4 separate regions of the Homo sapiens genome follow, and regions 2, 3 and 4 are each linked to region 1. The links come from fine-mapping of genetic effects on plasma protein levels. A gene starts in region 1. Each other region holds a variant in brackets. All regions are shown on one strand. Distances are from middle to middle.

Region 1 (6,861 bases):
AAGAGCCAGTTCCTGTCCGTCCATGCACCCACCACCAAAACCCAGGCCTTCCTGGAGGTGCTAGGGGAGGCCATGCCCCTTTTCTGAGTGCTTGGAAGTGACTGCTGCAAGTGACAAGTGACCACGCCTTTTCCCCCGCGGGTATAAATTCAGAGGCGCTGCGCTCCGATTCTGGCAGTGCAGCTGTGGGAACCTCTCCACGCGCACGAACTCAGCCAACGATTTCTGATAGATTTTTGGGAGTTTGACCAGAGATGCAAGGGGTGAAGGAGCGCTTCCTACCGTTAGGGAACTCTGGGGACAGAGCGCCCCGGCCGCCTGATGGCCGAGGCAGGGTGCGACCCAGGACCCAGGACGGCGTCGGGAACCATACCATGGCCCGGATCCCCAAGACCCTAAAGTTCGTCGTCGTCATCGTCGCGGTCCTGCTGCCAGTGAGTCCCGGCCGCGGTCCCTGGCTGGGGAAGAGCGCACCTGGCGCCGGGAGGGGGCAGGGAGACGGGGACACGGCAGGGATGCCTGGCCCTGGTCACCTGCGGCCGGGCATGTCCGGGCAGGACGAACTCGCCGTCGGAGTCAGGGGAAGAACTGGGTCCCCGGGCTGGGCAGGAGGGACCCGGCCGCGAGGGAGCAGAGAGGCGGTCCCCCTGGCTGCCCCGAGCCCGCGAAGGGAGGGAAGTTCCAGAATCGAGAGAGGGAGGGAGTCAAGGTGGAACCCATAGAGTGAGCCTCCTGAAGACACAGAGCGGTTGCCTCTCTCATTAATTAATTAATTAGTTAATAAAATTAACCCCATGTTTACATTCTTAAACGTGTTCCTTGGAGATCGGTTTAACCAACAGCCAGTGAAAAAACTTTTCAGCGCTGTCTTTAGCAACTTTCACCTCCTCTGTCCTGAAAGTGGCAGGAAGCCGGAATGTGGCAGGAAGCGGTTAACCAAGGTGCTGCCTTGGTTAATGTCTTCCACTACCACCCGTGTGTCCCCTCTGTATCCCATAGGCAGGACCGGGGCTGGCCCCTTCCTTCAGCATAAACGGTGTAAAGTTGTTGTGAGTTGGCTTTGGAAACTGAGATTGGTAGTAGTGTGAGTGCAAGGACATATTATGTATAAAATATGCAGACTTCTAGGTCTCTTTCAGATTGATTGAGGTTTTTGCTAACAGCCCTTTTTAAGATTCTTTATGTAATACAAAAAAAAGAAAAAAGAAAAAGAAAAGGCCAAAGCAAGGTTACAGAAACCATGAGAGTTTGCATGTTGTCTTTCTACAAATTAATGCTAAATTCAGAAAAGCAGTAACATTTTCACCTCTCAAAAATTACACAACTGACTTTTAAAATAGTTTATAGTGGGTGGACTTACCTGAGGCAGCTAGAAGAATGGCTGTGTCAGGACAGTGGCCCTGAAGAGAGAATGCATGGATGACCAGTGTAGACAAGGCCAGCAACATCAGTTTCACGGTTTTGGGAATGTGAACTCTATGCGTCCCAAAGGAGGCTTTAATCCCTCCATCAGTCTTGCCTTATTAAATGCATTTAAATGTACAATCACTTTGTTAAATTTTGGAGCTAACACAAATCACATTAGATGTTTTATGGCAGTACATTCAGATTGATCTTCTTTTAAACAAGGGTATTGTATTTTACTGCATGGGTAAGCCACATTTTAATTCACTGTTGCCGCCTAGGGGCAGCTGGTTAGATCCCATCCTGACGGCCTTTGCTAATTCCAACAGCATTGTACTAAATACCCTTGTATGTATCGTGTGTCCACATATCCATGCACACCAGCTTATTGGGCAACTCCTTACAAGTTGAATTCTACTTCTCCTTCTGTGGGATAAATGACTTCAGAAGTTTCTTTAAATGTTCACGAATTTTCCTCCAAAAAACCACTGAACCCAGCTTACAGTCACACCTAGTCCACAAATGTGCCTGTGTCCCTACACCTTTGCTACACTTAGCTTTCATTCTTTACTAGTCTAAGATGTAAAACATAACACATCACATTGCTATGTATTTTTGTTTCCTCATGGTATTAGGAATTTTCAAGGATATAGGAGTTTTTTGGTACTGGGAGTAGACCAGGGTATCCAGATGAGACAGCAGGGAAGACTGAATTCTGAGCTGTGCACTTGGAAAACCCTGGTCAGTTGGGGCCAGTCCCTGCCACCCACCATGCCTGTGAATGGAGATAAGGTCTCCATCCTCAGCCTGTCAGGGTGACTTCAGATGAGCCTGGAGCTGAGTTCAGTTCCTGACCCCAGGTCCTGGCTCTGTCAATGCTGGGCTGGTCCAATCTGTGCGCCAGGTCCTTCCACACCATTCCTCTCTCTATCAAAGTAGGAATTGAGAAGTTCCAACGGCTCAGAATCTCGGACTCTCAGGCTGTCAAGGACTCCTGAGATTGAAGGTTGTGAATGGCTGGGCCCTGCCGTGCTCCCCCTCTGGCTCTGTGACTCTGGTGTGGCCCCAGCTCCTGCCTGTAAAGTGAAGAGGAGGTAAAAATCTTCAGCAGCCCTGTGTAAACCTCAGAGGGCTGTGTTACCAGGTGTGGGAGGACAAATCACATCCTCAGGGCTGGTGTCACTCACTCTGGACTGGATCCCCAGGCACCTGTCCTCCATCCAGCAGAGGCTGCCCCTGTTCCTACCTGCACCCTGGTACTTGCTCCCTGAGCTTGGGGCAGAAGCTTCTGAAGACTAGGGTGGAGCACCACGGGGAGGGGCCATGGAGGAACAGAGGAGCCAGACGTCAAGTGAGGACAGCGATGGCACTGCAGGGCCACAGCCTGGTTTACCTGCCATGCTTCCAGTTGTCCTTCTGGTAGGCGCCTGGCCCGGGTTGTAGTTTGAAGAGTGAGCAGGAAATGTCTCCATCCAGGTGGCTGCAGATGGCTACTCACCCAGGCTGTACTGAGAGGCCACAGTCCCAGTTCTGGTCCTCTGTCGTGTATCCAGGAGTGGCAGGGCAGTGAGGCTCTAGCTTCTAGGTCAGGGATGGGGACAGTGGGGACAGTGCCATGCCCCGAGCCTCTGCCGTTGGGCAGCTGGTATCCTGCTTCCAGCCAGAGAATGCACATCTTCATGTAGTGGATTTCCTAACAACCCGGGGAGATGAAGGTAGGTTGTTTTTCCTGTTTTACAAGTGGTAAAATGAGATTCAGGGCTAGAGTTCTCTGAGCAGCTGCTTCTCTGATCTCTGTCCTGCCCTTGGCCTCTGGGAGCTCTTATGGTTCCTCAGCAGAGTTCACAGGGCTCTTGGAGCCTGTCCTTCGGCCTTGAGCTGAGGCCACAACTGCGCGCACTTCATAGGCTTGAGGGGAAAGTGATTCATCCAGGAAGTAAACAGTGAGCCCTTTACTCTGAGAACACCTGTGCCTGGAGTCCGCCGGAGTTTGGGAGGACAAATGAACCCCATGTGAATCCTGTTCCCTGGAGCCCGCAGTGTGGTGGGAGAGGTGACCCAGGGATTATATAACTAATAGGAGGTAGCATGAAGGAGGCCTGAGATCTCACTACCCTTGCCTCCCCCTCCTCCAGAGAGGCTGTGCTGGAGAGAGGCCATGCTGTTGCAGGGCCATAGGATGTGGTACTGTTGGCCTGGAAGATGTGGTTTGATTACAGTCACCATTGAGGGTCAGGGAGGGGAGCGAAGCTCTCCTTTAGATGCCCCCCCACCCGATTTTTTTTTTTTTTTTTTTAGCTGGGCCTGAGAATTTGATTCACCTAAGAGAGGTCCACAGGAGACAAGCACACACATTTATTTAATTCAAGTTTTACCTGGCATGGAAGAACCTGTGAGAGTCAGTTACTTATTTACTGAATTAGACCAAGTAACTCATGAAGAAGCAAGTAACTATGTGAGGAGCTAAAAAGATGAGAGTGGATCCATTCTAACATGGTCTGCACAGTACCCTCTTGGCCTCGACTTCTCATCCTTAAAAATAAGGAAATTGTCAGCTGGGTGCGGTGGCTCACGCCTGTAATCCCAGCACTTCGGGAGGTCAAGGCAGGTGGATCACGAGGTCAGGAGATCGAGACCATCCTGGCTAACACAGTGAAACCCCGTCTCTACTGAAAATACAAAACAATTAGCGGAGTGTGGTGGCGGGTGCCTGTAGTCCCAGCTACTGGAGAGGCTGAGGCAGGAGAATGGTGAGAACCTGGGAAGCAGAGCTTTCAGAAAAAAAAAAAAAGGAGATTGTCCTATGTTTCCCTGGGGACTTTCATCTCCTGCTTTTAGGAAACACAAAAGAGGTCAAAGGATCTTCTTGCACCTGTTGTTTTTCAATAGCCTTTAATTCATAATAGTCAATTGACCAGGGTGGGCAGGGTGCGATGGCTCACACCTGTAGTCCTGCCAAGACAGGCAGATCACTTGAGCCCAGGAGTTCAAGACCAGCCAGGGCAACATAGCAAAACCCGGTCACAACAACAACAACAAAAAACCAAACAAACAGAAAAACAGAAAAACACAGAAAATTATGTCGTGTGAAGGAATCCACACAGAATGCTTACCATCTGATTCCATTTCTCATTAAAATTCGACCAATCTATTCTGACAAAAAGCAGAATTATTGCTGGGGACATAGGAGCAAAGCGGAAGAGAGGATTACATTGAAGAATGAAGAAATTCTGGGGTGTGGTGGACATGTCATTTTCTTATCGTGGTGGTAGTTCCACAATGTATACACACGTCTCAATCTACCAAACTACATGCTTCAAAAATGTACACTTTGTTTCATGCCCATTATACCTCAATGAATCCATTTTTAAAAAACCTTCAATAGAATGTAAACACTTGAGTGTATACTGTATTCCCTATAGCACTTGCACATAGATCATGGAAATAGGTATGCATAAAAAGTCAGTTTATCCAATTAAAATGGAATTCTAAAAGGTAATTAACATTAAAATGTGCAGGGGGAAAAGGAGTAAAAAAATTAGACTAGACAATCATAGCTTAAATGGTAAACTTACAGGTCTATTTCAACTATATCAATTATTGCACTCCCTGTAAATCCACTGAGCACTACAGTTCAATGGTAGAAATGTTTGGAAGGGCTGAGAAAGCAAGACTCAACTATATCTTGTCTATATGAGATGGGCCTTAAAAGGAAGACACAGATGTTGTCTGTTGAAAGTAAATAGATGGAAAAAGATACACCATGCAGAGTGTAAGGCCAAGAAAACTGCCATGGCTATCTCAGTATCAGATGAAGTTGATTTTGTTAGCGGTGGATGAGATCCGAGTTACCCTACGTTGAAGGCGGCGAATCCGTATGCGTCCACAGCACCTTCAGCTCTTCGCCTCCTGAGAAGAAAGAACTGGTTTGAGGGGCATAAGGCAGAAGCAGAGATGGAGGCAAGTTTCAGAGCAGGAGTGAAAGTTTATTAAAAAGCTTTAGAACAGGAAGGAAAGGAAGGAACAGGAAGGAAAGGAAGGAACAGAAAGAAAAGAAGGAAAGTACACTTGGAAGATGGCCAAGCAGGTGACTTGAGAAACAGTACGCAGCCGGACCGCCTGAGTTGGGGTTTTATAGGTTGGCCTACTTCCAGGATCTTGCCTTACTTCTCCCCACTCCTGAAATCTTATTGGGAAGCTGCTGATCAGTTTCAAGTGTTTTCTATGTATTAGGAAACTGCTTTTTTCTGGCATCGGCTGTAACCAGTTATTACTTTAGAGACACAGTTATCAACTACCTGATGGTCGCCCAACACTGCTGGTGTCAGAAGCGGGGACCCCTCTCCTGTCCTGCTCATACCTAACTAGCTGCCTACTGTGACAATTTTAGGACATTGAATATTATGGGAGATGAAAAGGGACCTTTGTAGTTAAAAGGGTTAATTCTTCAAGGAGTATAATAACAACAAATTGTATATGCCTAGTAATACATCTTCAAAACACATGACACAAAAATAGAATTAAAAAGAGATTAACTCAGCTGTTTCTCTGCACTTGCTAGCATGATTAGATGAAAATGCCAGTAAAGTGGCAAGCGATCTGCACACTATCAACCACCTTGATTTAACTGACATTTAAAGAGCAGGAGTGGAACATTCACTGAACACTCATTCCTTTCTATGCTCATGATACTTTCACCAAGATAGACCAGGTTCTGGGCTATAAAACACACAATATGATCTCTAAACTTAATGAAACTAAACTGGAAATCAGTAACAATATCCACAGAGAATTCTAAAATTTTGATATTGAACAACACACTTCTAAAAATCTGTGGTTCAGACAGGAAATCAAAAGGGAAGGTAAGATATTTCAAAGTAAGTAATAATGACAATATAACACATCAAAAGTGGTGCGAAATAGCTAACAGTGCTCAGGGTGAAATATACAGCTTTCAATGTTTGTATTAAAAAACTGGGGGTTAGGGAGATGGGGAGTTACTGCTGAAGGGTATGTAGTTCCTTTCTGGAGTGATAAAAATATTCTAAAATTGATTATAGTGATGATTGCATAGCTATGAGTATATTAAAAACTGCTGAAGTGTGGACTTTAAATGGGTGAATTATATGAATAATCATAATTATTAATTATGTGAATTGTGTCTCACTAAAGCTGTCAAAAAAAGAAAAAACGTGAAAATTATGGGCCGGGCACGGTGGCTCACATCTGTAATTCCAGCACTTTGGGAGGCCGAGGAGGGTGGATCACGAGGTCAGAAAATCGAGACCATCCTGGCTAACACGGTGAAACCCTGTCTCTACTAAAAATACAAAAAATTAGCCAGGCGTGGTGGCGGGCACCTGTAGTCCCAGTTACTTGGGAGGCTGAGGCAGGAGAATAGCATGAACCTGGGAGGTGGAGCTTGCAGTGAGCCGAGATTGTGCCACTGCACTCCGG
Region 2 (7,891 bases), 63 kb after region 1:
CAGAAATGTGTGCCAGGTTCCAGGCACTGAGCTAGACTCAGAAATGTGTGTCAGGCCCCAGGCACTGAGCTAGGGTCAGAAATGTGTGTCAGGCCCCAGGCACTGAGCTAGGGTCGGAAATGTGTGCCAGGCCCCAGACACTGAGCTAGGGTCAGAAATGTGTGCCAGGACCCAGGCAATGAGAAATGTGTGGGGTCAGGAATGTGTGCGGGGTGCAGATCCAGGCAGGAGGTGAAAGGTCAGGGACTTCAGGAAGACTGACAGCATTAACACAGAGCCACCAGGGCCTGCAGGAAAGTCCTTAGAGCACCTTAGCTCCCTTGGCCCTGGAGGGTGGACCACACAGTATAGACCAGAAACCAGACTGCAGGTAACAACGCATTCTCTGTGCCCTGTGTGGAGCACTGACTAGGGCTAATGGCAAAAGGCTGTGAGCACCTCCAAGGAACTGGGCCTTTAGAGTCAAGTTTCCACTTAAGAGGCACTTACTAGCTTGAGATGGAACACTAACTGAAGTCTCCCCTGTCACTGAAGGACATAAAATAATCTTGAAACCTGAAAAACTGATGATGTCTTCAGGAATCTTGGAAAAGCTCTAACGGGGAGGCCAGTCCCAGAAGAGTTCTATTACAAAATGGATTTTTTTTTTTTGAGATGGAGTCTCACTCTGTTGCCAGGTTGGAGTGCAGCACGATCCAGGCTCACTGCAACCTCTGCCTCCTGGGTTCAAGCGATTCTCCTGCCTCAGCCTCCCGAGTAGGTGGGATTACAGGCACATGCCACCACGCCTGGCTAATTTTTGAATTTTCAGTAGAGACGAGGGATCTTCATGTTGGCCCGGATGGTCTCGATCTCTTGACCTCGTGATCCACCCGCCTCAGCCTCCCAAAGTGCTGGGATTACAGGCGTGAGCCACCTCACTCAGCCTAAAAAATGGAAATGGTTGATATGGGATCCTGGTGCCTGAGGAAGGCAAAGAGGAGACACTCATGAGCAGGGAGCCTCTGTTCCCCTCAGACTGAGTCTGGAACTGGGTGAGGAGCTGCTGGATTCTGTGGTCACTTGGACATTGCCCTATACACAGCTCTTTACTTACTGACCAAGAGCTACTTAGTTTGTAGACAGTCATTCCTAGATGAATGGACAACATCCTACTTGGAAGGCCACCCCTCTGATGGAAGAAGGCAAAGGCAAATTGGCTAGGTGGGTTGGATTGCATGCTATTTTCCTAGCCTTATGGAAGATTTGAACAGCAGCAAAAGCCCCTGTACTTGAGTTTTTTTCTGGCTCATGGACAGTCGTCAATGTCCCGGTCATAGAGTTGGGAAGGAGAATGTGAAAGTTGATCGCACAAATTGGGTCATTCTTGTCACACCCAACTAAAACAGAGTCAAGAGGCCATGGGGAAGAAAAATCACTGTATTACCCCCAAACTGCAATTCTCTGTAAGTCTGGCAGCTGTAACGTGAAACTATTAATAGTTCTGTCTTATATCTATTGACACAACCAGCTGCTGCTCTAAGACCAGCCTGACCCACTGCAGTCACTCACCAGTCAGAGCATGCCACTTCTTCAAATTTTACAGCGCCAATGAACTTTCTGCAAAAAAAAATACTTAGTATTTCTCATTTAAAAAAAAACATCTGGCCGTGTGCGGTGGCTCACACCTGTAATCCCAGCACTTTGGGAGGCCGAGGCAGGCGGATCACGAGGTCAGGAGATCGAGACCATCCTGGCAAACACTGTGAAACCCGGTCTCTACTAAAAATACAAAATAATTAGCCGGGCGTGGTGGCGGGCACCTGTAGTCCCAGCTACTCGGGAGGCTGAGGCAGGAGCATGGCATGAACCCAGGGGGCGGAGCTTGCAGTGAGCGGAGATCACGCCACTGCACTCCAGCCTGGGCAACGGAGCCAGACTCCGTCTCAAAAAAAAAAAAAAACTTCCAAACTTCTCTTTGTTCTTTGGACGTACCAAAGACAACTTGGTCTTTGTGTATGCCAAGAATTGCAATTCTTACTTTCCAAATAAAGGGTATTAAATTTGGATATTCGTCTCTACATTTTCCATTGTTTCCAAGAGTAAGGGGAAACTGACCTAGTGTAGGGATGTCCATATGAGGCCCGACCCTATGGAAATCTCTAGGGGAGCTTGAGGAGTGCATTAAAGTAAGACACGCCCATGCTGGTCAGTAGAACCCACCCTCAGGTTTAGAAAGTGACTGTAATCAGCAAGAGATACCCCCGTGTACTCCCTTGAGGTGGTCACCAGAGGCCACGAAGCAAAAGAAGTGGATATGGGGGAACCACAGTGACGCAGAGATGGGCTGAATCGAAACACATTCCTCTTGCTCTCTCTCAGGCACATGACACCAATAAGAGCTGTTCTGTCTAGCAGCGGGAGAGACAGAGACTGCCTATAGCTATGAGGCAGATTCCCTGATGAGGAGGCCCTCAACATACTTGGAAAGTGAGACTGAGGGCAGTGCCCTGGGGGGTACAGGTGAGTCTCGACAGCAACAGAAACTGACTGTGGATTGTCTTTTCCTTACCTGGTGGAGGCTGCAAATGCCCAGAGTGCTATTAATATAAAAGAACTGAAAGAAGGTATTATTCTAGTTTGGACCACTAAACCGAACTTCCTTGGACCGAGAAACAGGCTGTTCAGTGCATAATGTTTAGCAATGGGCAGAGAGATATCCTCCTTAGAGTAATAATTTGATAGGGAAGCGGAACAGTCAACTGAAACATTGATTGTCTAAAATGGGGGGAGACACAGGCATGAAGGGCTGGCTTCCACACCTTCACTGGTGTGTGCCCCTACTCCACACGAGTGGGCTAAAGGAGTGTCCCCACCAGACTTTCCTCCATTTTTCCAGTGGATCTGGGGATGAGGGGGTGGGGAGGATGCTAGTATAATGACTGTCATTTTGTTGTTGTTGTTGGGTTTTTTTGAGACACAGTCTCACTCTGTCACCCAGGCTGTAGTGCAATGGCATGATCTCGGCTCACTGCAACCTCCGCCTCCCAGGTTCAAGTGATGCCTCCTGAGTACCTGGGACTACAGGCCCCCGCCACCATGCCCAGCTAATTTTTGTATTTTTAGCAGAGACAGGGTTTCACTATGTTCGTCAGGCTGGTCTCAAACTCCTGACCTCAGGTGATCTACCCACCTTGGCCTCCCATAAGTGCTGAGATTACAGGCATGAGCCACCGCGCCCGGCCAATGACTGTCATTTTTGTCTTTCTTCCCCGCATTACCTCAACTCTCCCCTCCTCCCCACCCACCACCTGGTGCAGTGGCCACAGGACCGGGGCTACAACTACAAGTGCTGGAAGCAGCGACGACTCCTAAGCCAGGAACTGAGACTATGTGTTTAGACTTTTCTGTCAATTTTCTTACAGACCTGATGGGTGTGGGTTGTGCTTTGCCCCACCTGGCAAAATAGAAGCTAACCGTATATGCAGCTACATTGCCTGATATGGTTTGGATGTGTGTCCCTCCAAATTTCATACTGAAACAGGATCTCATGTTGGAGATGGGCCTGGT[G/A]AAGGTGTTTTGGGTCATGGGGGAAGAACCCTCATGAATGGCTGTCTGCCTCCCCACAGTAGTGAATGAGTCCTTCCTCTATTAGTTCACTCGAGAGCTGGTTGCTTAAAGGAGTCTGGCACCTCTCACCTCTGTCTCTTGATCCCTGTCACCATGTGATGTGCTGGCTCCGCTTTGCCTTCTTCCATGATTGGAAGCTCCCTAAGGCCCTCACCAGAAGCTGAGCAGATGCAGGTGCCGTGCTTGTACAGCCTACAGGACTATGAGCCAAATAAACCTCTTTTCTTTATAAATTACCAAGCCTCACCTATTCCTTTATAGCAACGCAACATGGACTAATACATTGCCTATTGGTAAAATAGCCCACTAGTTCTGCACCTATGTAACCCTGCCCTATATGAATGGAAGTAGATTGAGGGGATACGCTTGCTGCATGAGTATTGCTGTCAGCAAGCTGGCCCATCACAATTCCTTTTAAAGTGGAAAACTTTGAATATAAGTGAAAAGAAGAAGGAGGAGGAGCTGAGAGTAAAATAATGAATAAATGGTTTATGTAATGGGGAAAATCTTGTATTACAGTAATACCAAGAAAGAGACGCAGAGGAAGAGAAGACATTGTCTCTTAGCTCAATTATCCCAGATGTCTGAGAGGGGGAAGCTCCATATTTGCTGAGACCTGTCCTGCTTTTGGAACCTGACAGGTGGAATGGAGGCCTAAAAACCTGAGTGGTCTCATCCTGGGATGCTTTTTTTTTTTTTTTTTTTTGAGGCTGAGTTTCTCTCTTGTTGCCCAGGCTGGAGTGCAATGGCGCGATCTCGGCTCACTGCAACCTCCACCTCCCGGGTTCAACTGATTCTCCTGCCTGGGCCTTCCAAGTAGCTGGGATTACAGGCATGTGCCACTACACCCAGCTAATTTTGTATTTTTAGTAGAGATGGGGTTTCTCCATGTTGGTCAGGCTGGTCTTGAACTCCCGAACTCAGATCATCCACCAGCCTCGGCCTCCTGAAGTGCTGGGATTACAGGTGTGAGCCACCACACCCGGTCCCTGGGAGACATTTGTATATGATATGATGCTGGAGTGGACTAATTATAAGTGACTGAGGAGGACCTAGTAACCTACCAGTATCTTTTGAATTGTGTATCGTTTTGCTATGAGGGAATCCATGGCCAGAGATCAGACTGATTTTGCTATGAGGGAGTCCATGCCAGAGATCAGTCTGGTCTCTGGCCATGGACTCCCTCATAGCAAAAGGATATGCAACTCAAAAGATCAAATATGTATTATTTTATTTGTGCCATATTTGATCTCTGCCCTGTTTCCTGCAACAAAGCTCTGAAAATCCTTGGAATCTCTCAAGTGATCAATGTGTTTTTTGTATGCCAGTGAAATGACTGATGGCTGGAGGCTCTTGGACAGCCTCGGGGTGGGGGGAACCAGCCTGTGATCAGAGGGTTGAACCTTCAGCCCCTGCTGAAGTTTTGCTTGGGTTTTGCTTACCTGGTGGAAGCTGCAAATGCCCTCCCCCATCCCAGCTTCTGGTGAGAGAAGAGGGGCTGAATGTTGAGGTGATCACCAATGGCCAGTGATCACTCATGCTTGAGCAATGAAGCCCCCAAAAAAGCCCAAAAAGAGGCCGGGCGTGGTGGCTCACGCCCGTAATCCCAGCACTTTGGGAGGCCGAGGTGGGCGGATCACGAGGTCAGGAGATCGAGCCCATCCTGGCTAACCCAGTGAAACCCCATCTCTACTAAAAATACAAAAAATTAGCCAGGCGTGGTGGCGGGCACCTGTAGTCCCAGCTACTTGGGAGGCTGAGGCAGGAGAATGGCGTGAACCTGGGAGGCGGAGCTTGTAGTGAGCCGAAATAGCACTGCTGCACTCCAGCCTGGACAACAGAGCGAGACTCCGTCTCAAAAAAAAAAAAAAAAAAAAAAAAAAAAAGCCCAAAAAGACAGAGTTCAGAGAGCCTCTGGGTTTGTGAACAAGTACACATCTGTATGTAGGGAGGGTGGCACCCTCTAATTCCACAGGGACAGAGCTCCTGCACTGGGCACCCTCACAACCCTCACCTTCTTCATCTGGCTGTTGATTGATATCATTAAAAATATCCTCTGTAATAAATTGGCAATAGCAGGTAAACTGTGTTCCTGGCTTCTGTGAGCTGGCCTAGTGAATGATGAAACCTGAGATGCAGAACATGGGAATTGTCAGTTGGTGGCTCCCATGTCAGGTTCTAATTAGCCTAGTTGTGGGGGAACCAGGAGTTTTCACAATGACTCAATGGCCAATGAAATTCTTATGAATTCACAGTTTATTGTGTGGCTTTTGCACATACACACTCATGCAAATATAGTCAACACACACAGGCGGTGATGAGACGGTGGGGAAGGGACCACAGTGAGCATGTCAGGAGACCAGCACGCTGACTGACACACTGGCAGGTCCGGGTTTCCTCAGAACATGGACCAGGGTGGGGGTCGCTGCTCTTCTTCCATAGCCCATGGGAAAGAGGCCTCAGAGTTCTTGGGGGCAGAGCTGCAGCAGCTGCTTGGCTATGGTCAGAGTCTTTGCGGTTTTTATGGCCCTCTGCAGGCTTGTCTGTAGCCAAGATCTCAGCTGCCTTCTGGCTTCACTTGCTTGTCTGGTCTAGGGGGTGCCCGTCCACAGCAAATCCTCTTATCACCTCAGTCCACCACACATACGCTTCTCACTCTGAGGGGTCAGCAATTTCAATGTGGGCTGATCCTCTGTCACAAGTGAATTTATTTTGAGACATTTAGGGTCACCAAACACTAATATATATCAGTAGCTAAGTCAGACAGAAGGCGTGGACGACTTGGGGACACTGTATTAGTCTGTTTTCACACTGCTATAAAGAATGGTCCGAGCCTGAGTAACTTATAAAGGAAAGTAGTTTAATTGACTCACAGTTCCACATGGCTGGAGAGGCCTCAGGAAACTTACAGTCATGGCGGAGGACGATGGGGAAGCAGGCACCTTCTTCACAAGGCGGCAGAAGGGAGAGTGAATGAGGAATTGCCAAAGCCTTATAAAACCATCAGAAGTTGCGAGAACTATCATGAGAACAGCATGAGGAAACCAACCCCACGATCCAGACATCTCCCACCACGTTCCCCCCTTGACATGTGGGGATTACAATTTGAGATGAGATTTGGGTGAGGACACACAGCCAAACCATATCAGACCACCTGCTTGTGATTTGCACCTGAAGTGGGGGGAGTCTGTGGCACTGAGTCCTTGCCCTGTGGGGTCGGCACTACCTCCGATTTGTGTCAGAAGTGAATTGAATTGGCTGGGCGTGGTGGCTCATGCCTGTAATCCCAGCACTTTGGGAGGCCAAGGCAGGCGAAGCACGAGGTCAGGAGATCAAGACCATCCTGGCTAACAGGGTGAAACCCTGTCCCTACTAAAAACCATAAAAAATTAGCCGGGCGTGATGGCGGGCTATTGGGAGGCTGAGGCAGGAGAATGGCGTGAACCCGGGAGGCGGAGCTTGCAGTGAGCCGAGATCCCGCCACTGCACTCCAGCCTGGGCGACAGAGCGAGACTCCGTCTCAAAAAAAAAAAAAAAAAAAAAAAAGAAGTGAATTGAATTATGGGGCACTCATCTGAGGTGGGAAAAGTGGTCAGGGTGGGAAAAATCCACACATCGGTTCCCAGAAGTATCTCGAACTATGAATATATTGATCAGTGTAATTTTGTGTCCGGAATTGGTGGGTTCTTGGTCTCACTGACTTCAAGAATGAAGCCGCAGACCCTCGCGGTGAGTGTTACATCTCTTAAGGTGGCACGTCTGGAGTCTGCCCCTTTTGATGTTCAGATGTATTAGGAGTTTCTTCTTTCTGGTGGGTTTGTGGTCTCGCTGGCTCAGGAGTGAAGCTGCAGACCTTCGCGGTGAGTGTTACAGCTCTTAAGGCAGCGCGTCTGGAGTTGTTCATTCCTCCTGGTGGGCTCGTGGTCTCGCTGGGCTCAGGAGTGAAACTGCAGATTTTCACGGTGAGTGTTACCGCTCATAAAAGCAGCATGGACCCAAAGAGTGAGCAGTAGCAAGATTTATTGCAAAGAGCAAAAGAACAAAGCTTCCACAGTGTAGAAGGGGACGCCAGGGGGTTACCAATGCTGGCTCGGGCAGCCTGCTTTTATTCTCTTATCTGGCCCCACCCACATCCTGCTGATTGGTAGACCCGAGTGGCCTGTTTTGTCAGGGCGCTGATTGGTGCATTTACAATCCCTGAGCTAGATACAAAGGTTCTCCACGTCCCCATCAGATTAGTTAGATACACAGTTTTGACACACAGATCCTCTAAGGCCCCACC
Region 3 (7,891 bases), 42 kb after region 1:
TACAAAAGCACTTCTACACACTGACTCAGAAATCCTACTTCTTCCCAGAAGCCTCCTTACATACTTGATCAGAAATCTGGACAAAGATTTACTGTGAAATATGTTCAATGTAGTAAGAATTTTGAAGAACATTTAAAACTTCCGCTGTTTCAAGCAAGGGCTCCCTGACTTCTGTTAGGAGCACACGATGGAGACTGTGCAGCCTTATTCAGTCCTCAGTGAACCCTGTGACACCCACTCTATGCCTGTGGAGATCCAGGCTCTGGGGACACAGCAAGGACAGGACAGGGAGTAAGAAGCAGATGTCCTGCAGACTGGCACGGTCACCACCTCAGTGCAGCTGCTCCGTCCCCTGCAGTCCCCTGTCTCCCAAAGGCTCCATGTCCCCTTGGGCCAGGAAAGAGGAGGCACTGCCATGTCCCACTGTCTACAAAGTCCTGTGCAGGCTGCACGCCAGGCAGGGCACAGTCCCTCCTCAACTCACCAGCAGACGCTGTGGCTCCTCTGGCAACTCTACAGTCACACCTGTTAGCTCTGCCAGCTCCTGACCTTGGATTTCCTGCTCAGAGACCTGGGTGGGCTGCAAGTATCTGTTACTCAGGGTCTCGTTGCGGGCATTGTCCTCCGCCCCAGGAACTCGTGAAGGACATGAACGCCGCCGGAAAAGGACCTTGGGAAGACAAAGAGCCCACTCAAGTCCACACCCCGGGCTCAGCTTCAGGGTCCCCAGTACACAGCTGGACCTGCCATCCCCAACCCCTTCCAATGAGGTCACCCCAGGCAGCTGAGGCTCAGCACATCCAGGACCCCATGCTGAGGTGGGTCAGGTGGTCACCCCATCCCCATGGGGCCAGCTGTGGAGTGATGGTGTCACCGAGGCTGCAGGAAGGACAGGGCTGCAGCACGGCCTGCTGGTCTGTGTGCTGCTCAAAATGGCCGTGTGTCCCCCACAGTCAGCCCAGATCCCCCAGGCCATGTCAGAGAGTCAGGGCAGCCATGAGGACAAGGGATTGTGCCCACCCAGGCTCGGCAGTGGATGGGAAGCAGTTCCTGAACCCACGAAGCCCCCAGTTTCTGGAGAAACCAACTCACTCTGTGCACACGTTCGGGACCTCCTCCACCACCTGGAAAAGAAGCAGTCTCCTGAGCAGGCGGGGAGGGGCCCATGCAGCACCTCCCTCCCAGAGGACAGTGGGGCGCAGGGCTGGCTGGGGGCTGGGACACTGGACAAGGAGCCCTGGGGCTGGGGACAGAATGGGGCCTTGCAATTAGGGGACACCCTGAGGAAGGGGGATGAGAAGGGGAACTAGAGTAAAAACCAACACGTGGAAAATCTCTGTGTTCTGCTCTGACCAAGGCTGAATAAATCCCACGACCACTTCTCATCCTGACCCTTGTCACCCAGTTGAGGAGCTGACTGCCCCCTGCCTGGCTGGGCCTGAAGATAGGAGGAACTGGCCCTGCCCTCCTGGAGTTGGCTCCGGGAGATGAGGGGTCCCCCAGCCCTGAGAGAGGGACTGATGAGACCAGGGTCCTTGGGGATACACAGGACGTGGGGATGGGGCGATCACAAGAAGGAAGACCAAGCCAGGCTGGAGACGCTTGGACCAGGGGCAGGGATGGGGATTACTGTCTGTGGGAACGGAGTGGGAGAGGGCAGGGCAGACAGTGCCCAGCGCTCCCACCCTCAGCCAGCACCTACCTGAGCAGATGCCTTTGAGGTAAGAAATGAATTTCTTCCGACATGAAAAGCCAACCACAACCACAGCTAAAATGATGACTAAAACCACTATGATGATAAGGTAGTGATAGGGAGAGGCAAGCATCCCCAGGATGGTGGTCACTGTCTCCTCCGCTGCTGGGGTTTTCCCAGTGGAACTGGCAGCTGATTCATTTTTGCACTTGATGTCACTCCGGGGCGTACAATTACTGACCTTGACCATCCCTCTGGGACACCTGGGTACACACAGAGAGGGAGACAGGGACTCTTGATGGAAAGCTGGCCAGGTGGGATGAAAGAGGAGCCACCCTCCCTGCCCAAAGTCCCTGAGAAGGCGTCAGGAGGACAGGCTCCTCGTGTCAGCAGTGGGTCCCCCTGTGCTCCCTTCTTGAGGCTGGGGAAGGGTCTGAGCATGCACACTTCAGCCCCTCGGCCTCCCTGCTCTGGGGTCAGAGCTGTAGATCCAGGAGCCTTCTGTGCTGGGCACACACTGAGCTTCCCTGGGCTGCAGGGGAGGCCTGCGTTAGGAGGAGCCGCACTCCAGGGGAAGATCACAAGCCCCTGTGGCCACAAGCTGAGCCCCTTCCTCCAGTTAACACACAGTACAAGTGAGTCCTCGCCCCACCCTGTCTGCCGCTGGTTCCTCCCAACCACAGCAAACACTGGAGGGCCAGAGAAGAGCAAGTTACTCTTTGCCCCTAAAACCCAAATAGGATAAAGAAGGACTTAGTGAGAAATCGGGGGCCAGGGGTGAGGCCGGCTGGGTGGGCTCAGGTCCTCATGGGAACTTAAGGGAGCTCCACCCATGGCCTTATTATGACTTTTGTGGGCTACGGACACTTTTGTCTTTATGGGTCCCTGCCCACATAAAAAATATTAAAAATTACATTTTTTAAACCAACTTAGAGTAAGGAAAAATACAAGCCAGGCTGGATTCAAGTGTTTTCTTCTGATTTCAAAAGGAAATTACATTTCCTAGGTTGCCTGAAAAGGTTCAAGGGACCTAGAAAGTCACCTCCTGTGCCCAGTGAACAATTCAGCCTGGACAAAGGGACTCCTGCTGGGGAGGGTATGGGAAGGGGCTGCTGCAGGGGGTAGGGGTGGGGACAGGCAGATGGACCAGGAGGGGCCAACGCAGGCTCAGGAAACCCCACAGGCTCAGGGAGGCCTCGGGCCTGGAGGATCCATGGGGTCAGCGGAGAGATAGAGGTACCAGGTGAATCAGGTCTTTTCAGGTTCCTGAAAGCTGTTGGGAGCCCCTGGCTGCTGTCTTACCCTGTTCTACACGTCCGGCACATCTCAGGGGAGTTTTTATCCTGGAAGCTTCCTTTTTCACACTGACACACGGTGTCTCTGGTCGTGGTACAGGAACTTTTATTTGTTTGACCTGACAACAGAGCATAAGGTTTTGAGAATGTGTTTCCCTGACATGTCTGTCCACCCTTCCTCACCACCCCATCCCCTCCCACTCAGCTCAACTCAGTTCACCAAGGAGTTCTGAGGGCTGGTTTCTGCACCAGCACACTCGGGACTCATACAGGACACCCACCCTGTATGTAAGGACCAATACAAAAGGACCGTGATTCATTATTTATTATATCAGGTTAGGGGAAAAGCATTGTTTAGATGGCATGGTCAGTAGCAAGGGAGGCGCAAGGGCATCACCTGAGAGACTCTGCAAGGAGAGGGGCCCTTGGGGGACTTCCCAAAAGCCCCGGCCTTGCTGGGGAAGAGGAAGGGGCCTGAGAACCTGAAGGCTAAGTGAGGCCAAGCACCTTTCAGGAGCACAGAGCCCGGGAGGAGAGAGCCTGGCCACGGAGCAGACCTGTGCCACTGCTGGAACCCAGCCCTGTCCACTGGGCCAGGCCTCCTCTATGCTGTAATGATGCCCCCACCCGGCTGCAGGCAATAGTTTAGAAGATTTCCCAGCCTGGTGGCATGCATTACAGAAAAGATTTTGGCCAGGCGCAGTGGCTCACACCTGTAATCACAGCACTCTGGGAGGCTGAGGCAAGCGGATCACCTGAGGTCGGGAGTTCGAGACCAGCCTGGCCAACATGGAGAAACCCTGTCTCTACTAAAAACACAAAAAACTGGCTGGGCACGGTGGCTCATGCCTGTAAGCCCAGTACTTTGGGAGGCCGAGGTGGGTGGATCACGAGGTCAGGAGATCGAGACCATCCTGGCTAACACGGTGAAACCCCGTCTCTACTAAAAATACAAAAAAAAATTAGCCGGGTGTGGTGGCGGGCACCTGTAGTCATAGCTACTCAGGAGGCTGAGGCAGGAGAATGGCGTGAACTCAGGAGGCGGAGCTTGCAGTGAGCCGAGATCGCGCCACTGCACTCCAGCCTGGACAACAGAACGAGACTCCGTCTCCCAAAAAAAAAAAAAAAAAAAAAAAATTAGCTGGGTGTGGTGGTGCATGCCTGTGATCCCAGCTACTTAGGAGGCTGAGGTAGAAGAATCACTAAACCTGGGAGGCAGAGGTTGCAGTGAGCCAAGATCA[T/C]GCCATTGCCCTCAAGCCTCAGCAACAAGAGTGAAACTGTCTTCAAAAAAATAAATAAATAAAAGAAAAGAAAAAAAAGATTTCTATTTTTTTTTTTTAATCAACTAGTCATAATCATGGAACAGGGCATGATGAAGACTACCAAGTTGGGCTAGAACTTGGTTCCCCGACTCACATCGGCTACAGCTCCCACCTCATCACTATGCACTCCACCTCTGGGCAAGGGGTCCACACATTCTGTACCTGATTTACAAACTGTACATAGCAGGCAAGAAGGCAAATTGTTGGAAGCAATGGTGTAATCCACACCCTCTGTGCACGGGTTACAGGCTCCAGTATATTCTGATCTATGAGATCCTGGGAAGGGAGAGAAAAGTTAATGAATGAGTCACCACAGAATTCCCAGAGGCTGACAATGGCTGGCAAATTTCTCTTTTGGCCCTCAGTGGAATCCAGACAGAGAAATCTGCTCTTCTTGGCTTGGTCTTGTCATCAATTCTGCATCTATTACACTATTACATACCTTTGACTGGCACTGCTGACAGAAATATAATACAAATCACATGCAAAATTCAAATTCTATGAAAGCCACATTAAAATAGTACAAAGAATGAGGTCAAATTAATTTTAACTATTTTTTAGCCTAAAAATATCCAAAACACTACATTTCAATATGTAATCAATATAAATATTTGAAATATTTTATCTTTTTTTGGCCAGGCACGGTGGCTCACGCCTGTAATCCCAGTACTTAGGGAGGCCAAGGCGGACGAATCACGAGGTCAGGAGATCGAGACCATCCTGGCTAACACAGTGAAACCCCATCTCTACTAAAAATACAAAAAATTAGCCGGGCGTGGTGGCAGGCACCTGTAATCCTAGCTACTCGGGAGGCTGAGGCAGGAGAATGGCGTGAACCCGGGAGGCAGAGCTTGCAGTGAGCTGAGACTGTGCCACTGAACTCCAGCCTGGGCGACAGAGCAAGACTCTGTCTCAAAAAAAAAAAAAAAAAAGAAAAGAAAAGAAAAGAAATATTTTATCTTTTTTAAAATTTTTTTTGGAGACAGAGTTTCACTCTTGTCACCCAGGCTGGAGGGCAATGGCGCGACCTTGGCTCACTGCAACCTCCACCTCCCAGGTTCAAGCGATTCTCCTGCCTCAGCCTCCTGAGTAGCTGGGATTACAGGCACCCACCACCACGCCCAGCTAATTTTTTGTATTCTTAGTTGACACGGTGTATCATCATATTGGCCAGGCTGGTCTCCAACTCCTGACCTCAGGTGATCCACCCTCCTCGGCTTCCCAAAGTGCTGGGATTACAGGCGTGAGCCACCATGCCACGCCCAGTCTACTTTTTTTTTTTTTTAACAATAAAATAAAATAACAAAATAAAATCCAACCTCATCTACATGTGATCTGCCCATGCTGGTCCACCTGACCTGTTTGCTGTCCACTCACTATGGTGGCCCCGTCTCTGCTCGGTATCCCCCAGCGCCTGCACCCTGGGACTGTCATTCCTAGGGAGGCTGCTCAGGAGCACCATTTCTGGCTCTCTGCACAACTATCCCTGTCCAGCTTTGGAGACTGGCCAAAATCACCATCCCCGAGAGGCCCCACCAACCTCGTCTCTGTCTCACTCATCACTTAATTTCTTCATGGTTCCTATCAGGAATTTCTGACTGTTATTTTGATCTGTGTGTCTTAATACTATCCCAGAGAAAAGGTTCCACGAGGGCAGGGCCTCTTATAATTATCCCATTAGCACGGTGCCTGACTGACAGAAATCATCCAACATGTCCCTATGGAATAAAGAACCAGAAAGTGCAGGAAACAGAAGTCTGGAAACACATAGAGATAAGGGCATGATAAAGGCATGATAAGCTAAGATATCAGTCTTAGCTTGTGCCTTCGGGCTAGCACTACAGACCCAGGATCCTGACCCACCTCCATAGATTCAGCTTCCAGATCTGTCCTAGTGCCAGGTCAGTCCCCATGAACTCAGGCTCCAGGCCCTTCCCTGTGGACCCAAGGATGAGACCCATCACAGCACCTGGCTGACATCTGCAGACCCAAGTACAAGGCCTATTCCAGTGCCAGTTCAGCCCTCATGGAGCCAGGCCTCAGGTCACCTCTCTGGATACTGGCTCTGACCACCCTTGAACCACACCACATGGCCTGCCCAGAATCTGTGAACAGGCTGACTGGTGAAGGGCGTTCCCTGACAAAGCCAGTCTGTAAATACTGGATTAAGTCCCTGCTTCTTCAAAGTGCACATTCCAACATATTGCCACAGGCTCCTGAGCAATCAGGGAACAGTGACGGCACCAAAGAAACAAAATGAAGCACAAGTAACCAACCCGAAAGGAATAGACATTTACAACAGCCTGACAAAGACTTGAAAACAGTCATCTTACAGAAGCTCAGTCAGCTACTAGAGAATATGGATAGACAACTAAGTCATGTCAGGAAAACAATACATGAACAAAATGAGTAGTTTAATATACACAGACAACATAATAAAGAAGAAAGCAGAAATTCTAAAATTAACAACAACACAATATCTGAACTAAGAAAATTCCACAGAGAATGTCAACAGCAGAGTTGATTAATCGGAAGAAAGAATCAGTGAGCTTGAAAACAGATCATTTGAAATTACCAAGTCACAGGAAGAAAAAAAAAATAAAGAATGAAAAAGAGGGAAGAAAGCCAACAGTACCAACGGTTACTGTGAAGCAAAACAATATATGCATTATGGTGGTCCAAGGAGCATCAGAGAAAGTGAAAGGAACAGAAAGTGTAATTAAAGAAATAATTAAAGAAAATGTCCCAAAACAGGATGGGAATGGACATCCACATTCATGAAGCCCAAAAAACCCCTAACAGATAAATATGAAGAGATCTTCACCAAGACACATCTTAAACAAATTCCCAAACATCAAAGGCAAAGAGAATTTTGAAACCAGCAAGAGACAAGCAATGTACAAAGGAACCCCTATAAAACTACCAAAGGCTTCTCAGCAGAAAACCTACAGGCCAGGAGAGAGTGGAATCATACAAAGTACAGAAAGGAAAAATTCCTTGCCAACCAAGAATACTACACCTGGCAAGCCTGTCCTTTAGAAATGCAGAGCAGTAAAGACTTTATCAGACAAAGAAAAAAAAAAACGGGGGGAGTTCATCTTTAGCATGTATTGCCTTACAAGAAATGTTAAAGAGAGTTATTCAATCTGAAAGAACAGAACACTAACTGGATACACAAAACCATGCGAAAATATAAAACTAGGTGGTTAAATACATGGTCAAGTTCAGAATATTCTAATACAATCATAATAGTGTACAAATTACTTACATCATTACTATAAAAGTTAAAAGCCCAATGTATTTTTTTAAATGATACTTAATACAATTTGTTAAGGAATACACAACATAAAAAGACGTAAATAATGACAAAACATAAAATAAGGCAGGAGAAGAAAAGGTGTCAAGTTTTTTATGAGATCAAAGATAAATTGTTATCAGTGTAAAATAAAGTTAGACATGAACCTAACTTACAAATTCAGTAGTGTTTTTATACACTGACAAGAAACTATCTGAAAAATCCCATTTATAATAGCTACAAAAAAAATGCTTAGGAATAAATTTAACCAAGGTGGTGGCTGTAT
Region 4 (5,000 bases), 8.8 kb after region 1:
ACCATTCTGCTCTCCACCTCTATGAGACCAACTTTTTCTGATTCCACATATGTGAGATCATGAGGTGTTTGCCTTTCTGTGCCTGGCTTATTTCACTTAGCATAGTATCCTCCAGCTTCATCCATGCTGACACAAATGACAGAACTCCCTTCTTTTTAAAGGCTGAATAGTATTCCATTGTATCTATGTGTCACATTTTCTTTAACTTTTCATCCATCCATGGACACGTAGGTTGATTCCATGTCTTGACCATTGTAAATAATGCTCCAATGCATATGGGAGGGAAGATATCTCTTCAATATACTGACGTCATTTCCTTTGGATGTATACCCAATAGTGGGATTGCTAGATCATATAGTTGTTCTATTTTTTGTTTTTTGAGGAACCTCCATACTGTTTTCCATAATGGCTGTACTAATTTCCATTCCCACCAACAGTGTACCAGCATTCCTTTTTCTCCCCATCATCAACACTTGTTACCTTTTGTCTTTTTGGTAATAGCCATTCTTACAGGTGTGAAGTGATATTTGGCACTTGATGGTTAGTGATGCTGAGCATTTTTTTCATATACTTTTTGGCCACTTCTATGTCTCCTTTTGAGAAGTGTCTATTCAGGTCCCACGCCCATGTATCCATTTTACTTGGATTATTTGATTGTGTGCTATTGAGATGTTTGAGTTCCTGTGTATTTTGGATTTTAACCAAAATCTTGGATCTTTTGAATATTGACCCTCATTCTGTAGGTTGTCTCTTCACTCTGTTCATTGTTTCCTTTGTCATGCAGAACCTTTTTAGTGTAATGTAACCTCATTTGTCTGTTTTTCCTTTTGTTGCCTGTGCTTTTGGGGTCATAGTCAAGAAACCATTGCCCAGACCAACATCATGAAAATTTTCCCCTATGTATTCTTGTGGTAGTTTTACCATTTCAGATCTTATGTTTTAATCTTTAGTCCATTTTGAATTAATTTTTACATATGATGTGAGATAAAGGTCTTATTTCATTCTTCTGCATGTCAATACCTACTTTTCTCAACACCATTTATTGAAGAGCTGTCCTTTCCCCATTTTGTGTTCTTGGTATCTTTCTCACAATCAATCAACTGTAAATGCATTGATTTATACCTGGGTTCACTATTTTGTTCCATCAGTTTATTTACCATTGTTGTGCCATTACCATTCAGTTTTGATTACTATACTTTTGTAACACGTTTTAAAATCAGGTAGTACGATGCCTCCATCTTTGTTCTTTTGTTTGTTTTGCTTAAGATCACTTTGGCTATTTGAGGTCTTTTGTAGTTCCATACAAATCTGGGCGTGGTGGTGCGTCGCCTATAATCCCAGCTACTCGGGAGGCTGAGGCAGAAAAATCGCTTGAACCAGGGAGTTGGAGGTTGCAGTGAGCCGAGATTGTGCCACTGCACTCCAGCCAGGTGACAGAGCAAGACTCTGTCTCAAAAAAAAAAAAAAAGACACATGAATATACATAACAGTCAGGATGTCCTGATGGGAACCATGAAGAATAGTTAAGTGACAGGAGATAGACAAGGTTGGTGGGGCCTCTCGGGGATGGTGATTTGGGCTGATATTTAAAGTTGGACAGGGCCAGTCTTGCAGAGAGCCAGGAAGAGTGCTCTTGAGAAGGCCCTGAAGGAATGAGAACCCCAGGTTTCGGGGGCTTGGGGAGACTGAGCGAAGACAGGGGGCCACTGTGGTGAGTGGACAGCAAACAGGTCAGGTGGACCAGCATGGGCAGATCACATGTACAGTAGGTTGGATGTTATTTTGTGAGTGACGGCGTAAAAAAAGTAAAATATCTCAATGATGTGTATTGATTACATGTTGAAATGTAGTATTTCAGATATTTTAGGTTAAAACTATATTGTTAAAATTAATTTGGCCTCATTCTTTTTACTATTTTAATATGGCTCTCATAGAATTTGAATTTTGCATAGAATTTGAATTTTGTATTATATTTCTGTCAGCAGTGCCAGTCAAAGGTATGTAATAGATGCTGAATGGATGACAAGACCAAGCCTGGAAGAGTGGATTTCTCTGTCTCAATTCCAGTGAGGGCCAAAAAAGAAGTTTCCCCACCACTGTCAGCCTCTGGGAATTCTGTGGTGACTCATTCATTGGCTTTTCTCTTCCTTCCCAGGATCTCATAGATCAGAACATACTGGAGCCTGTAACCCGTGCACAGAGGGTGTGGATTACACCAACGCTTCCAACAATGAACCTTCTTGCTTCCCATGTACA[GT/G]TTGTAAATCAGGTACAGAATGTGTGGACCTCTTGTCCAGAGGTGGAGCGTGGGGCAATGAGGTGGGAGTTGTAGCCGATATGAGTCAGGGAACCAAGTTCCAGCCCAACCTGGTCTTCATCACCCTGTTCTATGATTATATATTTGACTGATTAAAAAAATAGAAAGAAATCTTTTCTATAATGCATGCCACCTGGCTGGGAAATCGTCTAAACTGTCAGCTGCAAGAGGGTGGGGGGATCATTAGAGCATAGAGAAGGCCTGGCCCAGTGGACAGGGCTAGGTTTCAGTAGTGGCACGGGTCTGCTCCAGGGCCAGGCTCTCTCCCCCAGGCTCTGTGCTCCTGGCAGGTGCTCGGCCTCACTCAGCCTTCAGGTTCTCAGGCCCCTTCCTCCTCCCCAGCAGGCCCAGGCTTTGGGGAAGTCCCCCAAGGCCTCCGTCTCCTTGCAGAGTCTCTCAGGTGATGCCCTTGCACCTCCCTTGCTACTGACCATGCCATCTAAACAATGCTTTTCCCCTAATCTGATGTAATAAATAATGAATTATGCTCCTTTTTATGACTCCTCTGAGTGCTGGTGACAGCTGAAGGGTGGGTGTCCTGTATGAGCCCTGAGTGTGCTGGTGCAGAAACTGGCCCTTAGAACTCCTTGGTGAACTTGGTTGAGCTGAGTGGGAGGGGGTGGGTGGTAAGGAAGATCGAGGGATACATCAGGGAAACACATTCCCAAAACCTTATGCTCTGTTGTCAGATCAAAAACATAAAAGTTCCTGCACCATGACCAGAGACACAGTGTGTCAGTGTAAAGAAGGCACCTTCCGGAATGAAAACTCCCCAGAGATGTGCCGGAAGTGTAGCAGGTGAGACAGCAGTCAGGGGCTCCTGACAGCTTTCAGGAACCCGAGAAGACCTGAGTCACCTGGTACCCCTATTTCTCCGCTGACCCTATGGAGCCTCCAGACCCATGGGGTGTCCCTGAGCCTGTGGGGTCTCTTGGGTCTGCAGTGGCCGCTCCTGGTCCATCTGCCTGTCCCCACCCCTACCCCCTGCAGCAGCCCCTTCCCAGACCCTCCCCAGCACGAGTCCCCTTGGCCAGACCAACTTGTTCACTGGGCACAAGAAGCAACTTTCTGGATCCCTTGATCCTTTTCAGCAAACCTAGGAAATGCGATTTCCTTTTGAAATGAGAAGAAAACACTTGAATCCAGTCTGGGTTGTATTTGTTGCTATACCAAGCTGTTTTAAAAAATGTTCTTTTTAATATTTTTTATGCAGGCAGGACCCATAAAGACAAAAGTGGTCACGGCCGACAAAAGTCATAAGAAGGCTGTGGGTGGAGCTCCTTCAAGTTCCCATGAAGGCCTGAGCCAATCCAGCCGGCCTCACCCCTGGCCCCAATCCCTCAATAAGTCCTGTCTTTTCCCTATTTGGGCTTTAAGGGCCAAGAGTAATTTGTTCTTCTCTGGCCCCCTAATGTTTGCCGTGATAGGGAGGAACCAGCAGACAGTTGGGGGTGAGAGATCACTTGTACTGTGGGTTGACTGGAGGAAGGGGCTCAGCTTGTGGCCACAAGGGCTCGTGACCTTCCCCTGGAGTGTGGCTCCTCCTAACGCAGGCCTCCTCTGCAGCCCAGGGAAGCTCAGTGTGTGCCCGGCACAGAAGGCTCCTGTGGCCCCAGAGCAGGGAGGCTGAGGGGCTGAAATGCGCATGCTCAGACCCTTCCCCAGCCTCAACGAGGGAACTTGGGGGACCCCCTCCAGACAGGAGCCTGTCCTTCCCCTGACACCTTCTCAGGGACATTGGAGAGGGAGGGTGGCTCCCCTTTTATCCCACCTGGCTAGCTTTCCCTCAGGAGTCCTCACCTCCCTCTCTGTGTGTACCCAGGTGCCCTAGTGGGGAAGTCCAAGTCAGTAATTGTACGTCCTGGGATGATATCCAGTGTGTTGAAGAATTTGGTGCCAATGCCACTGTGGAAACCCCAGCTGCTGAAGAGACAATGAACACCAGCCCGGGGACTCCTGCCCCAGCTGCTGAAGAGACAATGAACACCAGCCCGGGGACTCCTGCCCCAGCTGCTGAAGAGACAATGACCACCAGCCCGGGGACTCCTGCCCCAGCTGCTGAAGAGACAATGACCACCAGCCCGGGGACTCCTGCCCCAGCTGCTGAAGAGACAATGATCACCAGCCCGGGGACTCCTGCCTCTTCTCATTACCTCTCATGCACCATCGTAGGGATCATAGTTCTAATTGTGCTTCTGATTGTGTTTGTTTGAAAGACTTCACTGTGGAAGAAATTCCTTCCTTACCTGAAAGGTTCAGGTAGGCGCTGGCTGAGGGCGGGGGGCGCTGGACACTCTCTGCCCTGCCTCCCTCTGCTGTGTTCCCACAGACAGAAACGCCTGCCCCTGCCCCAAGTCCTGGTGTCTCCAGCCTGGCTCTATCTTCCTCCTTGTGATCGTCCCATCCCCACATCCCGTGCACCCCCCAGGACCCTGGTCTCATCAGTCCCTCTCCTGGAGCTGGGGGTCCACACATCTCCCAGCCAAGTCCAAGAGGGCAGGGCCAGTTCCTCCCATCTTCAGGCCCAGCCAGGCAGGGGGCAGTCGGCTCCTCAACTGGGTGACAAGGGTGAGGATGAGAAGTGGTCACGGGATTTATTCAGCCTTGGTCAGAGCAGAACACAGAGATTTTCCGTGTGTTGGTTTTTACTCTAGTTCCCCTTCTCATCCCCCTTCCTCAGGGT

Alleles and levels. Alleles are on the strand shown, and positions count from the first base shown. The strength of an association depends on the size of the effect and on how common the allele is. Not every link is listed here.
For the plasma level of the protein whose gene starts at base 174 in region 1, allele G in region 2 goes with a higher level than allele A (strong association).

What was found. PIP is the chance, under the fine-mapping model, that this variant and not a neighbour inherited with it causes the effect. Protein levels are from antibody-based Olink assays in UK Biobank. Linkage for the fine-mapping came from a reference panel and not from the study's own genotypes, which makes the PIPs less certain.
Region 2: its variant is fine-mapped to the plasma level of the TNFRSF10C protein (UK Biobank, PIP above 0.99).
Region 3: its variant is fine-mapped to the plasma level of the TNFRSF10C protein (UK Biobank, PIP above 0.99).
Region 4: its variant is fine-mapped to the plasma level of the TNFRSF10C protein (UK Biobank, PIP above 0.99). The variant lies in the coding sequence of TNFRSF10C. If it changes the protein, the assay may bind it differently, which can mimic a change of level.

Annotation. Positions count from the first base shown.
Region 1 is chr8:23,102,748-23,109,608 of GRCh38, forward strand. TNFRSF10C (TNF receptor superfamily member 10c) reads left to right here and starts at 174. Exons shown (of 5, transcript NM_003841.5): 1 at 174-434. The coding sequence starts at 375. LOC254896 (a long non-coding RNA gene) reads left to right here. Exons shown (of 4, transcript NR_046173.1): 4 at 1-811. RefSeq lists an enhancer at 239-1,048.
Region 2 is chr8:23,165,659-23,173,549 of GRCh38, forward strand. No RefSeq gene overlaps it. Among named protein-coding and RNA genes, the nearest start is that of TNFRSF10D, 5.6 kb to the left of the region's middle. RefSeq lists a silencer at 2,815-2,995. The variant G/A (reference allele first, on the strand shown) is at 3,550.
Region 3 is chr8:23,143,966-23,151,856 of GRCh38, forward strand. TNFRSF10D (TNF receptor superfamily member 10d) reads right to left here. Exons shown (of 9, transcript NM_003840.5): 3 at 4,473-4,586; 4 at 2,996-3,107; 5 at 1,703-1,956; 6 at 1,093-1,124; 7 at 485-670. Among named protein-coding and RNA genes, the nearest start is that of TNFRSF10D, 16 kb to the right of the region's middle. RefSeq lists an enhancer at 625-1,352. The variant T/C (reference allele first, on the strand shown) is at 4,230.
Region 4 is chr8:23,112,502-23,117,501 of GRCh38, forward strand. TNFRSF10C (TNF receptor superfamily member 10c) reads left to right here. Exons shown (of 5, transcript NM_003841.5): 3 at 2,156-2,269; 4 at 3,007-3,115; 5 at 4,140-4,944. The coding sequence ends at 4,530. Among named protein-coding and RNA genes, the nearest start is that of TNFRSF10C, 12 kb to the left of the region's middle. The variant GT/G (reference allele first, on the strand shown) is at 2,257.